2 separate regions of the Homo sapiens genome follow, and region 2 is linked to region 1. A link means that fine-mapping ties the variant in region 1 to the expression of a gene that starts in the linked region. Tissue or cell type: whole blood. Region 1 holds a variant in brackets; the other region holds the start of a gene. All regions are shown on one strand. Distances are from middle to middle.

Evidence for each region. PIP is the estimated chance that this variant, and not a neighbour inherited with it, causes the effect.
Region 2: PALM2AKAP2 starts here. The variant in region 1 is fine-mapped to the expression of PALM2AKAP2 in whole blood (INTERVAL, PIP above 0.99).

The regions. Positions count from the first base shown.
Region 1 is chr9:110,145,586-110,153,453 of GRCh38, forward strand. All of the region lies in intron 8 of PALM2AKAP2 (PALM2 and AKAP2 fusion), which reads left to right. LOC124902244 (a long non-coding RNA gene) reads left to right here and starts at 4,148. Exons shown (of 2, transcript XR_007061727.1): 1 at 4,148-7,868. RefSeq lists an enhancer at 2,847-3,096. The variant G/A (reference allele first, on the strand shown) is at 2,984.
Region 2 is chr9:109,775,892-109,783,759 of GRCh38, forward strand. It overlaps PALM2AKAP2 (PALM2 and AKAP2 fusion), which reads left to right and starts at 4,307. Exons shown (of 11, transcript NM_007203.5): 1 at 4,307-4,642. The coding sequence starts at 4,598.

The DNA of each region.
Region 1 (7,868 bases):
TTGAGCACCATGACTACGTACTGTTCTCCTTGCCTTTTAAAAATTGATCTTTCTGCCTTGGCCCAGACTTCCCTGTGTTCTCTTTATCTAAATCCAGCAAGTATGTTTTCTTGAAAAATGCATGCCATTTGGAAAGGAATTGGTAAGAAAAGACTATGTTGAAGCTATGTTTGGCAAGGGGTGAAGGTGTGCAATGAAATCAGGACTTTTCAAAGTATAGAATTCCACATTCTCTTTAGATATTACCCTTAAAGGCTTGGAAAAGACAACTGCCATGGTTAAACCTGCCTGTCAGCCTCACTCTTCTTTTTTTTTTTTTTTTTTTTTTTTTGAGATGGAGTCTCGTTCTGTCGCCCAGTCTGGAGTGCAGTGGCGCTATCTCGGCTCACTGCAAGCTCTGCCTCCCAGGTTCACGCCATTCTCCTGCCTCAGCCTCCCGAGTAGCTGGGACTACAGGTGCCCACCACCGCGTCCAGCTAATTTTTTGTATTTTTAGTAGAGATGGGGTTTCACCGTGTTAGCCAGGATGGTCTCAATCTCCTGACCTTGTTATCCACCTGCCTCGGCCTCCCAAAGTGCTGGGATTTGGGATTACAGGCGTGAGCCACCGCGTGCAGCCCAGCCTCACTCTTGAGATCCTATGGGCCCAGAAGTCTTTATTCTGTGACAAGCCTGCAGTTACAGCTTCTGGGCAGCAGAACTTTGGAAAAAGCAGAACGTTCCCCACCAGCTGAATTCCCTGGTACAAGCAGGTTCTGCTGTTCCTGCTGATTGTGCTGGGTCTTCAGATAGATCCGTGTGTCTGGGTTGGCTCCTGCTGGTGCTGGGCCACCATGTGATGTCCTCATTGCCTACTTCTGCATGGCCTCTCCATGCTGCAAGTTAGTTAGGGGAGCATCTTATGAGGAATCAGACTCAGCCATGCACAAAAACAGATGCATAGTTTTCAGGTGACAGAGAGGAGGTGAATCAAAGAACCTAATTCTTGCAAGTTCCTTGGTAAGAAATAGGAACTAATCAAAACCAGGCTTGGGAGCAGGATGTCCTCTGTGACTGCTGGGGTTCAGGGCAGAATATGACTGTGTCTTTTACCAGCCATAGTTACTTGCTGTGTACTTCCCTAAGGAGACTGGCATTTCAGATCTATTTGATCTTTGTGTGCTACATACTTATGGGGTGGAAGGCTAGGAGGTGAGGTGGGGCAGGGAGAGAGTGTATGGGGCAGACAATTAGAGCACCAAAGAATATATGTGTAGTTCTTGTAACGAGATTTTCTTTCTCATGGCCTTGAAGGTAAACTTAAAAGGGTTCCCAAAATGTGTGTGTATCTAACTCACAAGTATTACCAGTCTCTCTTTTATTTCCCATTACTCAAGTATAAATCTATGTGCGAGGTGGCTCATGCCTGTAATCCCAGCACTTTGGGAGGCTGAGGTCAGCAGATCACTTGAGGTCAGGAGTTCGAGACCAGCCTGGTCAACACAGTGAAACCCCATGTCTACCAAAAATATAAAAATGAGCCAGGCGTGGTGTCACATGCCTGTAATCCCAGCTACTCGGGAGGCTGAGGCAGGAGAATCGCCTGAACCTGGGAGGCGGAGGTTGTAGTGAGCTACAATCCCTACTGCACTCCAACCTGGGCAACAAAGCAAGACTCTGTCTCAAAAAAAAAAAAAAAAAAATTATGTGTGATGGTCAGGGAGAATATATGCTAAAATATGACAGTCACTTCTCTGGATTCATATCTCAAGCTTCATTCCTGACTACCACTTGCTAGCTTTGTGACCAACTTACTTCACCTCTGTAAACCTCAGTAAAATAGGAATAAAGTTATACCAACCTCATAAAAATGTTGAGACAGGGCCTGGTACATAAAAAGCTCCCAGTAAGAGTTATTATTGTTGTTGTCATTACAACATTACAACATTACAGTTGCTCTTTTGTTTTAAGAAAAAGCTTAGAGGCTGATCGCTTGAGACCAGAAGTTCAAGACCAACCTGGGCAATATAGTGAGACCCTGTTTCTACGGGGGGAAAAAATAGCTGAATTTAGTGGTGTGTACCTTTAGTCCTAGCTACTCAGGAGGCGAGGTGGGAGGATTGCTTGAGCTTGAGTTCAACGCTGCTGTGAGCTATGGTCATGCCGCTGAACTCCAGTCTGAGTGACAAAGCAAGACCCTGTCTCTAAAAAGAAAGAAAAGGCCAGAAAGCCTTAGTAGAATTATTTGTGAGTTGCTCTTTTGCAGCAGTTGTGAGCCTGAAATAAATAACCGAACACACATGATAAAATTGCTTTCTATTCCTAGCTGGGATTTTTTTCAGTTACTTCCTTAGAATTAACATTTCTCTTAGAAACTTGAGGTCAGGAATAATGAGTTTTCAGTAGTCCACTATGATTCGAAAAACTAAAGAGTAAAAAGTCCATCATTAAATGTACTGAGTGAATAAAATTACATGTATTACCATAAAAATGTTTTCCTTCTGGGGGGAGGTAATCTTCACACAGCCAAGCCCACCATGCTAGTAGAAATGTATTTGAAGAGAGGATCTTGGTGGAGAATTACTATTCACCATAATTTTCATTCTTACTGTTTTAATTAACTTTTTTCCTTTTTGGCCTTAAACTCTGCTTGCCCTGTAAGAGCAGAGTTCTTTCTTTCCTTCTAGAGTTTTCATCATCTTCCAGTTGTGTTCATAGGTATAAACCCAATATCAGCAACTCATCCAACAACTTGACTTACCTTTAAGCAATAATATTTGACAGTTTCTCAGACTTGTTTGCCAAGCAGTGGTATTTCTCATTTCTGAGCTAAGTTTATAATCTGAAGATTCATATCATCACATTCTCCCACCCCTGGGGCCTTCAAAGGAGGAGATGAAAGAAGAAGGGACCAGCTCTTGGTGTGCGGGTCACAGCTGGAACCGCACAAGTCCGTGCACTCTGGGGCTGACAAGCAGGATGTTCCCTTGTACTGAGAGGAAAC[G/A]AAATTGAAAATGCAAGTCTGAGCTCATTTCTTTCTGGTGACTTGTGGGTCGCTTCAGATGTTTGCAACCTTATCCCAATGCTGTGTGAAGAAAGGAGGTCATTGAAGGAGGCCCTGGCTTAGGCATGTCCTCTGGTGAGTGATTTTGTTCGGTTCAGTTTGGTTTTTAAATACGAGTGGGTGAAGGCTTTTTCTTTTATTTTGAGAAATGTGGAAACAAAGGCTCTTTGATTTAAGACCTCAGACTTCATGCATAGAGAGAGTAATAATCACCCAAATCATAATATCTGACCAAAATTTTCAGGACTTTTGGAATCCCCATTCCTGGCTTTTTAAAAGTTAGACCTGAAATCCAGAAGGAAGATTTGGACAGTCAGGGATGACAATAGCTGTATTCTGAGTGCATGCAGCCTTTTCTCGGGTTCTTTGGGTGGGAGGAATTGCAGATTCTTTTCTCTGCCTCCTGTCAGCACGGCTCGCCACAGATGCCCAAGGGAAATCCATCCGGCCTGGAAAATCCAGAAGCACAGCCAAGGCATGGCTTGCTTTCTCTGGACCACAGAGTGGTATAACTATTTATGATAAATAAACAGGAAACACCAATTTATGCTTTCCCACTCATGATGGGACTAAACTAGCTAGTTTGGAGTGAAACTCTTTGGGCTTCCTTGCTGCTTAGTCTACCTTGCAATGCTACAGTCTTGTGAGCACCACCATTGCAGAGATGAACAGTTTTTTTCCTTCTGAGCTCCTCTGGGTATGCACCGCCTGGGATGATGGAAGGGCTTGTGGATCTGCCTAGTCCATAAAAGTTAAAGCAAGCAGGTTTACCTGCTTTTCTCAGCGTGGGCTAATAATATTTACAAGAAAACTTTTCTGGTTTGTTTTATATTTTAAAATTAATTTGTGCTGATTGTAGAAAAAAATGTAAAAAGAATCAAAAGTGATTCATAATCCTACTCCCCCAGGAATAACCACCTTTCTAGATTTTCTCCATGCCCATAGGTTCATGGAAGCCAATATTGGGTTGATACTTGCATTCGTTTCTATTGCTGCTATGACAAATTACCACAAATATAGTAGCTTAAAAAATATGCATTTAGCCAGGCACAGTGGCTCATGCCTGTAATGCCAGCACTTTGGGAAGCTGAGGCTAGAGAATCTCTTGAGCCCAGGAGTTCAAGCCCTGGGCAACATAGTGAGACCTTGTCTCTAATAATAATAATTTTTAAAAATACACATGCATTATCTTACAGCTTTAGAAGGCAGAAGTCTGAAATTCATCTGCTATGGATGACTATCTGACCAAAATAATTTTCAGAACTTTTGGAATCCCCATTCTTGGCTTTTTAAAAGTTAGACCTGAAATCCAAAAGGAGGATTGAGACCAGCCTGGTCTCAATTGAGACCCCTGTCCCGCAAATTCGTATACTGAAGTCTTAACCCTCAGTGTGGTGGTGTTTGGAGGTGGGCCCTTTGGGATATAATTAGGTTTACATGAAGTCACAGAGTGGAGCCCTCATGACAGGATCAATGCCCTTGTAAGAAGAGATATCAGACAGCTTCTCTCCCCACCATGTGTGGACACAGCAAGAGGGCAGCTGTCTGCAATCCAGGGAGAGAGCCTTCAGCAGAAACCGACCATTCTGGCACCTCGATCTTGGACTTCCAGACTCTAAAGTTGTGAGAAAATAAGTGCGTGTTGTTCAAACCATCCAGTCTATGGTATTTTATGGCAGCTCAAACAAACCTAAGACTGGGCTAAAATCAAGGTGTCAGTGGGTAGTGTTCCTTCTAGTGGCTCTGGGGAAGAGTTCACTTTCTTCCCTCTTTCGTTCTGTATGCTGCCTACATTCCTTGGCTCATGGCCCCTTCCTCCATCTTCAAGGCCAGCAGTGCAGCATCTTCAGATCTCTCTCTCTCTCTCGCTGACCCTCCTAGTTCCCTCCTACAATTACATCAGACCCAACTGGATATTTCAGGATAGCTTTCCCATCTCAAGTACCTAAACTTAATCACAACTGCAAAGTTCTTTTTACCTCTAAAGCAACGTATTACAGGTTTTGGGGATTAGGACTTGGACATTGTTGGTGAGGCCATTGTTCTGCCCACCACAGGAGGCAACATATAGTGTTCATCTTATGCTGATTGAGTGTCTGCCATGTGCTATGCACTTTTGCTTTCTTTCACACAGTTAAGAAGTGGTGAACTAGGATTTGAACCCAGGCAGTCTGGCTCTCCCGCCTGCACTCTTGAACTCCTGCAATATATCTACTTCTGCAGTCTGCTTTTTCTCTTAATATAGTTTGAATATTTTCTCATGACCTTAACCATTCCTCTAAGTTTGAGAGTCTAAAACATCATTTATAATGGCTAACTAATACTTCATTGCCTAAATGAGCCATAGCTAACTTAACCATTCTTCAATAGGAAGATATCTTGGTGTAGTTAAAAAAAACACAGTGCTGAACGTTCTTGTACATGAGCTGTGTGCCCATACTTACTTATTAAATGAACTTGGGCCAGAAAAGTTCCCTGGAAGCTGGTTAACTACTGTACATTAGACAACAGTATTTCCTAAACTGTTTTTCTTCTTTTTTCCCCTTCTGTATTCATTTACTTACTTTAAAATTTTTTTCCCCTTCTGTATTCATTTACTTACTTTTAAAATGAGGTCTCACTATGTTAACCAGGCTGGTCTCAAACTCCTGAGCTCAAGTGATCCTCTGACCTCAGCCTCCTGAAGTGCTGGGATTACAGGCATGAGCCTCTGCACCTGGCTTTTTTTCTTGAGGCACTTAATAGATTCTATGAAGTGAGGTTTTCTGGTTAACTAAACTTAAGAAATGCTGCACTCCCATTCCTGAATTAGAGCTTCACAATCATATTAGCACTAAAACCAGAAGTCCTCTGGTAAACAAATCCCTCTCTCCCTCCTTGTTTTCTTTAACCCAGAGTTTCCCAAGCTTAATTTGACCAAAGATTTTTTTCTTTGAGGCATCAAGTAACTATCCTACAAAGCTAAGGTCACAGGACACAATGTTAGAAACACATCTTTGGAGTCAACCAAGTGAAGCCACTTACCCTCAAACTCCTTCAAAGGCTTAAGTCTAAAATTACTCCAGATGGAATAGTTTGAATATGATCACGTTTATGAAATAAACTTAAACGTTTCCTATCCTCCACTCGGAATTTCAGTCTAACATTGTTGTAGTGGTTCCTTACGTTCCTTATAGAGGTCACATTATACCTGTTCCCTGCTCTGTAAATGTCAGGGCTGGCCATCAGCCAAGACCAATACGGACCTGCCCTGAGGTCTACATGGCACTGTGTGTTCATGTTGTTGTTTAAGGATAGTGACCGATGTCCTTCAAGAGAGCCGTTCTGGCCGGGCACAGTGGCTCATGCCTGTAATCCCAGCACTTTGGGTGGCTGAGACAGACTGATCACTTGAGGTCAGGAGTTCGAGACCAGCCTGGCCAACATGGTAAAACCCTGTCTCTAGTAAAAATACAAAAATTAGCCAGGCATAGTGGTGGGTGCCTGTAATCCCAGCTACTCAGGAGGCTGAGGCAGGAGAATCGCTTGAACCTGGGAGGCAGAGGTTGCAATGAACCCAGATCACTGCACTCCAGCCTGGGCAACAGAGCAAGACTCCATTTCAAAAAAATGAAAGAAAAAAAAGTGTTCTATAGAGTGTTCAGTGCAGGTGAGGAACTGGATGGCAGGATGTTCTCATTGAAAATGGGGCAGATTTCAGGCATCACAAGCTATTGAATCATTACAGGTGAATAAACCAATAGCAGAGCAAAGTTTGAGGGAGTAAGCAAAGCTGGACCTGGGGTTACTGGGGAAGTTCTGGGTGAGATGCACACTGGATCAGTGAAAAAGAAGCACCAAAGATAACCATCATGGTTTGGGGAGTCTAATGGGGCATGTCCTCTTGGCCAAGGGACTTCAAGGGGCCTTATGGGGTCATGAAAAAGAATGTGATTGAGCTCCCAGGCCTGTGGCACAGACTATTTGCATCACATTCATTTAATGATCTTCAAGACCCAAACAGTGGTGCTGTCTGCAGTGTCCACTATTGGGGGAAGAGCATCCGGAGTGCTGTCACCGTCCTAATGGAGAGGACCTCTGGCTGCAAACTCTGGACCTCTGAGGAAGTTGTCAGGTGTGGAACAGGTTTCTCTCCAGCCTTTTGGCAGCCTGTGTGATTCCTAAGATGGCACCCAGAATTCTGGTGCCTGGTTTGAACCATACTTGGGGAGGATCATCAGAGATCACAGGGCCCAGCAGAGGAGCCTGGCTGAGCTAGCTTCCCTTGATACTGACCAGAATGATGGCCGGAAGTCTGGGGATGAGGCATAGTGTCTTCTCTCTCTGGGGACCTGTGATAGCCTCTCCTAAGGGGGTAGATAGAACCAGAACATGGGCTCAGTTATCCAAAGCGACCATTCTCAGCCCCCTTGTTCCTGGAAGCCCCTGCTCCAGAACTGCTAAGCCAGCCTTTCTTTCCTGCTACTTCTCTGACCTCTAGTGGCTAGAACTGGAAAAACTTGCTCAAGGGATGAAATCATCAATAAGCAGGAAATGTCTTTGATGTTAAATGGCTGTCCACTTCTCTATAGTAATCCTTCACCCTCTTTACAACATTCTTTCTGCATACATCCCATCATTTAATTCAGCCATCATCAACACTGGGTTTGGGCTCCAGACTGTGACTGTCACTGTCTTATGTAACTTGGGCTGGAGTTGGCATCTGAGCCTCTGTGGTCATGACATCCAGGTGTCACGACATCCACCCTAACTACATTCCAGGGTTGTTGCAAGGCTCAAATGACATGAAGCCTACAAAAGAAGTGGTATATAAATCCGCTTGTTA
Region 2 (7,868 bases), 370 kb before region 1:
ATCTAGCATTCTGTATCCTTTTCGTATAATGCTTTGCAATGAAGCATCTATCATAAAAACCACTAAACCGTACAGATGGTGTTTATGCAACACAATTTAATGTCCCAGCAAGAACTAGTGATTTGTTACATACATTATGCATCATTGTGATGTATATATCCAGATTTTAAATGTTTGGAGGGCAAATAGTCACCAATATCATTGTGGCACTAGACTACGATTTTTTTTCTTAATACCAGGCCATGGCCAAACATCTAATATAAAATAATTATACAATATGTTTATTAAATAAATAGCATAGTTTGGGTTTTAAATGCCTGTGTTTGTAATGGGTTCAAAGATTTTAAAATACTAAAATTTAGAAAGTTGAAAGAAGTGCTGGAAGAGGAAAAAAGATTTTCCCTCTGCTCCTTGGCCAACCATCAGGCAGTCATTTCATGTGCCTTCCTGTTTCACCTAGGGTTCTTGGTCCCAAGCAACAGAAATAGATTCTGGCTGATAGGAGCAGAAAAAGAATGAAATGAAATTGTATTAGATAGCTCACAGGAGAGATGGAACGTCCAAAGAAGGAAGCTTGGGCAATGGGTACAACCAAAGGTGAACTAATAGCCTGAAGGAATTCTCTAACATGCTCAGTCTCCAAAATTCTTGGCAGGCACACATGCCTGACTGAGCCGAGATTGCCTGCCATACCATGGCTTCAGGGGGATCTGGGGAACAAGTGTCTGATACCTCCCAGCTTCTACCACAGGATGTGGCTCTGCCTCTCACTATGGCTTTTAATATGGGAAATCCCCAAAGATGGGAAGGAGTTCACAAATTGGCCAGCCAGAGGAAAAAAAAATGTGTATATGAACAAGTCTGTTACACTTCCTACCTGGCCAGAAGCATTTTGAATTTCCTCTCTTCTTTGGCTTTTTGTCTTACCTGCTTTGATAATCCGCAACACTGAATAAACACAAGCTTTTTTTATTGTGGGTCTCAGGGCAGTTAAAAATCACTTAGGAAGTACACACTATTGGTCATGAGTCTTTAGTCTATTCCTAGTAAATTCAATTAGTACAAAGGTTCTAAACCCATCCCTAACTCCCACATCACCCTGTAGAAATTTAATTCTGTACAGGTCTTCAGGAGATTCTGATGCAGATTTCTGATTAGGAACCATGTTTTAGTCTTTCTCATCTTTCACAGTTTCTTTACAAACGATTTCTATTTTTCTGAAGCCCCAACCCTACGCCATCAGTCTTAATCAATGACTCTTTGTTCAATTGGGAAAACCAGTCCATCTGATGCAAATTCACTTAACCTCTCTCCTGAGAGTTGAACTCAAACTTTCTTCTTGTCTTTATCCATTTCTTCCTCCTTCCCTACTTCGTTATTCCTTCTTCCCAAGGCTAACTGGCTAATGTGATGCTCATCTGAATGTCCTCTTGACTAATTAGAGACTTTGACTAATATTCACCTTCCTTTTTGACTGTATCTTTGGCCTAATTTCCCTGTTGTCTAATTTGCTTTGACCCCCAAACATCCAAGTCTTGCCTGACCTAAAAACCCTTTCCACTAGACCCTGCTTCCCATGGGCTATGTTCCTGTTCTCCACCTTCATCTTTCACATCTGAAGAGCTGAAAGAAGCAGTTTGTACTCATGGTTGCTTCTCTGATCTCTCGCTCATCCCCATTTTTGTTTGTTTTATTTTCAACATTCACTTGGTAGCAGTCATTCCTCACCTCTTGTAAGTGCTTCCAAGCTCATCTTCTGGACACAAGTCACTCATGGCTTACTGACAGCCCTCCAATGGTCTCTTCTTCATCTGCATCCCCCATGACCTTTCAGAAGCATATGACCCTGTTGAAAACCTCTTTCCTTCTTTGTGGCTTTTGGTGCAAATCCCTTTGAATTTTTCCTTCTACTTCTCGGATGATACTTTATCAGTCTTCTTTGCTGGGCTCTCTCCTCTTCTTGCTCTGTTTTCTCATCCTGGCTGTTCTCATTTCTTTAGCTGTAACCGCAAAGTAGATGACACTTGGATGTGTGTCCCCAACCCCGATTCTTCTATTCAGAGTTCAGATATTTCCAACTGATCACTTCCAAAGGGTGCCCAGGCCCTTTTCCTTCTCCATCTCCCCATTCCATCACTCCTTTTAAAAATTTATTGCGGTTAAAAATACAAAACTTAAAATTTACCATTTCAACCACTTTTAAGCATATGGTTTGATGACAGTAAGTACATTCACACTGTTGTGCTCAATCATACCTTTTAAATATCTGTATAGCTGGGAGTAGAAGGACCATTTCTGGTTCAATTGTTTATTCCTGGGGCCTGCTTCTATCTCCATATCATTGGCCAAGCCTGGTGCTTAATGGTTAAGAGCATGGGCTCTGGTGAGTGTGATCTGAGTTTAAATCCCAGCTCTATAACTGTAGCTGAGTCTTTCAACCTCTCTGGTCTCATTTTCCTCATCTTAGTATTCTCTACAATCACTCTGCTGAAGCAATAACAGCTTTGTTTATTTGTGAGCAAACCCCTTTAAATAACTTGTCCTGCTGGGGCTTGTGCTGGAAATGAAGAAAAAAGGATGCATTTGAAGAAAAGGATGGGCTTAGCCAGAAAGTAGAAGTTTCTGATATATTGGAGTGGGATGTAGAATCTGGCACTGGCTTGGATTTATTAAACAATCAGCTCCACCTACACTTGTTATGAAAAAGATGGGAAAACAATCCATCAGTAAACGATTTTGGTGAGTGCTTCCATCTTTGGTCAGAGGAGTAATTGTTCATCAGTGACAGGTGAACCTCTGTGAAAATTGAAAGGGCAATTTAGTTGAAATGGAAGCATTTATTCAGGAAACAGGTGATCTGGGAAAATTTGATGTGCATTTTTTTTTTTTTTTTTGAGACAGAGTTTCACTCTTGTTGCCCAGGCTGGAGTGCAATGATGTGATCTCGGCTCACTGCAACCTCTGCCTCCCAGGTTCCAGTGATTCTCCTGCCTCGGCTTCCCAAGTAGCTGGGATTACAGGTGCCTGCCACCACGCCCGGCTAATTTTTTGTATTTTTAGTAGAGAAGGGGTTTCACCATGTTGGCCAGGCTGGTCTCGAACTCCTGACCTTAGGTGATCCACCCGCCTTGGCCTCCCAAAGTGCTGGGATTACAGGTGTGAGCCACCGCATCTGGCCTGATGTGTATATCTTTTAACATGCCTTTAAATCCTATGGCTCTAAAGAGGCCATATTAGTTATTTCAGTGTTTATTTCATTTGATGAAGAAACGTTTGCATATGAATGTTGGGAATTCTAGCAGGTCCTGCCTCAATGTGAAGAGGCATTTTTTTTTGCTTTTGGCATTGATCTCCTTTTGGACTGGGCCTGATCCACTTCTTACATCCAGTCCAGGACCTGTCACAAAAGACTCACATTAGTACCACATGGTATCCTGTTTTAGTAAAGAATAGGTGAAATATTTTAGTGAGTAGATCCTACTTTTCCTTTCAGATGCAATGAACAGAAGACCCTGAAAGGATTTCAATCCAGAATGTCACAGGATAATAAGAGCAGATGTCTGTGATGCCCTTTACAAAGCACCTTTACATACTGTCTCTCATTCGTCTCTAATGACACCTATGTGATCCTCCATTTTTTCAGATGAGGAAACTGAGGTTCAGAGTGATTAAGCGAGTTGCCTGAGATTTCACAGCTAACACATTGTGAAATCTAGTCTAGCACCCAGGACTAAAAACTCTCGGCTTCTTTTAAGGCCACATATCGCCTCACCAGAAGGGTGGCCTCTCTGGAGATATACCCTACCCTCGGCCGACTTGATATTGAGAACTTGGTCATCTTAAGCATGTGGGCCACTTGGGCAAGGCAGCCCTTCCCAAATTGTAAATGTCCCCACGTGGAGCTCAAGCGTCTGGCTTGAGCCAGAAGGTGCCCTGAACACTCGGTGGCCCCAGCCCCCACGTAACAGCACGTGCTCGGGTCCCACATTCGGTCAGACGCCCCTCTCCACTGGCATCTGCCCGGTGGAGGCGCCACTGCGCTCTGCCTCCGCCCCAGCAAGCGCGTGTCCACGCGGGCGCGCCACGCCAGCCGTGCGCCCCAGCGGCTCGCCGTGCGCCCGCGCCCCAGGTGCCCACTGGCTCGCGCGCCCTCCGTCTGCGCCTTGGAGACCCGCGGCGGCGATCGCTCGGAGCCGCCTTGGACCGCGGCCTCGGGTCCATCACACTCCAGGGGCGGAGCGAGGCACCGAGACGTCAGGGCGGAGAACTAGCGCCGGGCTAGCGCGCCCTCCCGGCGGCTGCCGGCGTCCCACGTCCTCGGCTGGCGCGGCCGGCGGCGGCGGCGACCGGGAGATGCAGTGAGCGGCGGCGCTGGGGCGCAGCCAGGCGGCCGGGAGGGCGGGGGCCAGAGGCTGAGCCCGGGCGAGCCCGCCGTGCGCACAGCTCTGCCCGCCGCCCCTGGAGCGGATCCCCAGCCGTCCCTGGGCGTTCTCCCGGGTTCTAGCAAAGCCCCCCGGGGTGCCCATCAGTTTCCTTGGGTGACTACAGCGTGTGTTTTTTCTTTCCTCTTTCCCCTGCCTGTGTGCCCTTCTCCAGGATGGCAGAGGCGGAATTGCACAAGGAAAGGCTGCAAGCCATAGCAGTAAGTCCACTTTCATTTTATTTTCTTGCTCTATTGTCTGGGGTGGAAGGGGGCCCCCGAGGGTTTCGGGGCAAGCGGCATGCCAGCACAGTAGCCGCAGGTCATATGTTCCAGGGGCTAAAACTCTGTCAGGGCTCAGCTAGGCTGCCTTTTCTTTTCTATGTCTATAGATGGAGACCCCCAAGGGCGCGCTTTGGACTGAGGATTTGAATGTGGAAGATTGGCTTAAAAAAAGATGCTTGCTGCTGGGCTTTGGGGAAGGACTAAACAGAGGCTTGGGGTGGGGGGACGACTCCAGGAATATTATGACCGAATGCTCAGGCATACGTTGGCTTCATAGCCTGGAGAACCAAGAGAAGGGTGACCTGAACGGTGGCTGCCATCCTCTCTGCGGAAGCTGTCCTCCTGTTAAGTGGAAAACCAGGAGTCAGCGACTCAGCCAGCCACGCGGTAGAACCTCCTCCCAGAAACCGGGAATGTTAGTTTTCCCTTCTCTGTTTGATATTGACAAGGGCACTGGCACAAGCCACCACCCTGGAGGTCTGGGGACTTCATACAACTGGGTCCTGGTTATAATATTCCATGAGAGCCTCCTTCTTATGGTGTGGAGTATCTGAAAACCTATTTTCAGCCTACAAAGGAGTAGTCAGTTTTGGCAAAGTTCGTAGGCACTTTCAGAAAAGTGTACCCATGTGCATCTTGGGTTTAAAAAAGAACTCTCTGAGACTGCCTAGATTTGAGCAATCTTAACACAGTGTTGCCAATGATCCACAGATGTGGTATTTTTACTGGAGCCACCACAGCTGGATTATATATTTCCTTCGAGGATGAGGGAATGATTACTGCTGCCGTATGAAATAGTAACAATTAAAAAAGAAGGTCCGTTAACATATTGGCATAAAAGAATCTCCAGACATTCTTCCACCTAAATACATTTGTGTTTTTCAGTTCGGAAGTTCTCTGGAAACACATATAAATTTGTTGGAGAAATAGTGTGTAATGTTTTGGAACCAAAGTATATTAAAGCGTTTTCCAAAACCTTTTTGGACAGATTCTTCATTGGGAAAATGCACACAGACCCTTCCTTTTTTAGAAGCATTTGACATGGTCTCCAAGGCTCTGAGACCCTCTTTCTCAAACGCCTCAAATCTGAAATGTCTTGGAGACTTCACCACTGAAGTGAGAGAGATGTTTGCTGGCAATATTGAAATGCCATGGTTTGCCTATTAGGTAATCTTTGAACGTGGTGCTCTGAACTCAGAAAGGTTGTTTTTTTCTTCTTTCTCTTTCCCCCTGTGCATGTGTATTTTGATGGTTTGTGAAGTTATTTGTGGTTTCTAAAGTTGGTGGCAAGGCAGCATGGCCAGTGTGTCATGAACTTGATAAGAATGGTGATATTGAGTTAATGGTGCCATGTAGCTGGTGGGTGTTTTGTGTGAACTGGATAATAGGCTGCTTTAACTGTTGATGCAGTGGCTGTTCCCATTGGCTGCTGCTGAAGGCTTCCAACAGTTGTCACATTTTCTGCCTTTGCACAACCAGCTTTACTGGATGCCTGAGGAACAGCTGAACTCCATGAAAGGACTTGCTTTCCAAACATGGAGCCAGTAGCTGCTAACACTGGGGTACCCTTTTCCAAGTGCGGTTGAGTAATCCCAGCAGAGGCCAAGTCGATTTTCCAAGAAAGATCTAGGCAAATCTTTGGGAATTCTCTTGAGCATATAAGAATACACACAAATACTCACTTGTGCCTCTTCAGTTATTGAAGAATTGAGTTTGTCCTGTGTATCTGGGGAGCTGTTGATTATTCTCATGAATGTGCACCTAATACAGTCTGCCCTCCCTATTCATGGGTTCCATATCCACGCCTTCAGTCAATCTTGGATTGAAACTATTGGAAAAAATAATAGATAGCTGAGTCTGTACTGAACATGTACAGACTTTTTCTTGTCACCATTCCCTAAATAATACAGTATAATCAACTGTTTACGTCGCATTTACAGTGTATTAGGTATTATAAATAATCTGAAAATGATTAATGTATGTGGGAGGATGTGAGTAGGTTATATGCAAATACCATGCTATTTTATAGGGACTTGAGCATCCTTTGATTTTGGTATCCAAGGGGGTCCTGAAACCAATTCTCTGAGGATACTGAGGGATGACTGTATGATGTTGTCAGGACAGATTTGCTAACAGCGTGTGTTTGTTTGTGTGTGTGTGTGTGTGTGTGTGTGTGTGTGTATGTGTGTGTGAGAGAGAGAGCCAATTAAGAGACAGAGGGAGTTGGGTGGGGGGACTTATGGCCACATCGGTAAATGGTTTTATGCTATGCTTTGGTCTAGTGCCTACTCTTCTGAATTCTGCAAACCCTGACTCTCTCATCACTTTCCTGGAGTTCTCAGGGGACCCTGAGGAGATCACAAGCCTGCCCCCAGAACCTAGCACTCCTGAAGTCTCTCTGGAGATGTGAGGGAAGAAGACAATAGGTCCTCACATCTTCACTTACTTGGGCTTCTCTCTCAGAGGCAGAGAATCGACTGGGATTCCAGTCTGCAGGGCCTTGGGCAGTCTTTAGTCTGGGTCTCAGCTCCTTCATCTGTAGAATGGGTTCATGAGTTCTACCTCCTGGGCTGGTTGTAAGGTTTAGTTAGGATGGAGGTGAAGCACCTGGCAGGTAGCTGTCATTGGATGGTGTTGAGCAGAGCCCTTAGCTTTTGTCTGTATTGCTGTCTTGTCCTGTGGGGGGTCAGAAGCAACATCTCTGAAGTGGAATGTGTATTAATGACTTTTTTTTTTTTTTAGACAGAGTCTCACTCTGTCACCCAGGCTGGAGTGCTGCCATGACAGCTCGCTGCATCCTGAAACCATCCTCCCACCTCAGCCTCCCCAGTAGCTGGGATTACAGGCATGTGCCACCATGCCCAGCTAATTTTTAAATTTTTTGTAGAGATGGGGTTTCGCCATGTTGCCCAGGCTGGTCTGGAACTCCTGACCTCATGTGATCCTCCCACCTCTGCCTCCCAAAGCACTGAGTTTAGAGACATGAGCCACTATACTTGGTCTGAACAGCTCTTTTTTAATCCCTTCCTTCAACTGACTGAAAGTCAGGGCCCTGCCCAGCATCACTTTCTCTAACTGCTTTAGACAGAGGCAGAGATATGACTTGAGGATTCATTCATCCATTTGTTCAGTAGGTATTTACAGATTGCCTCCTCTGGGAAGG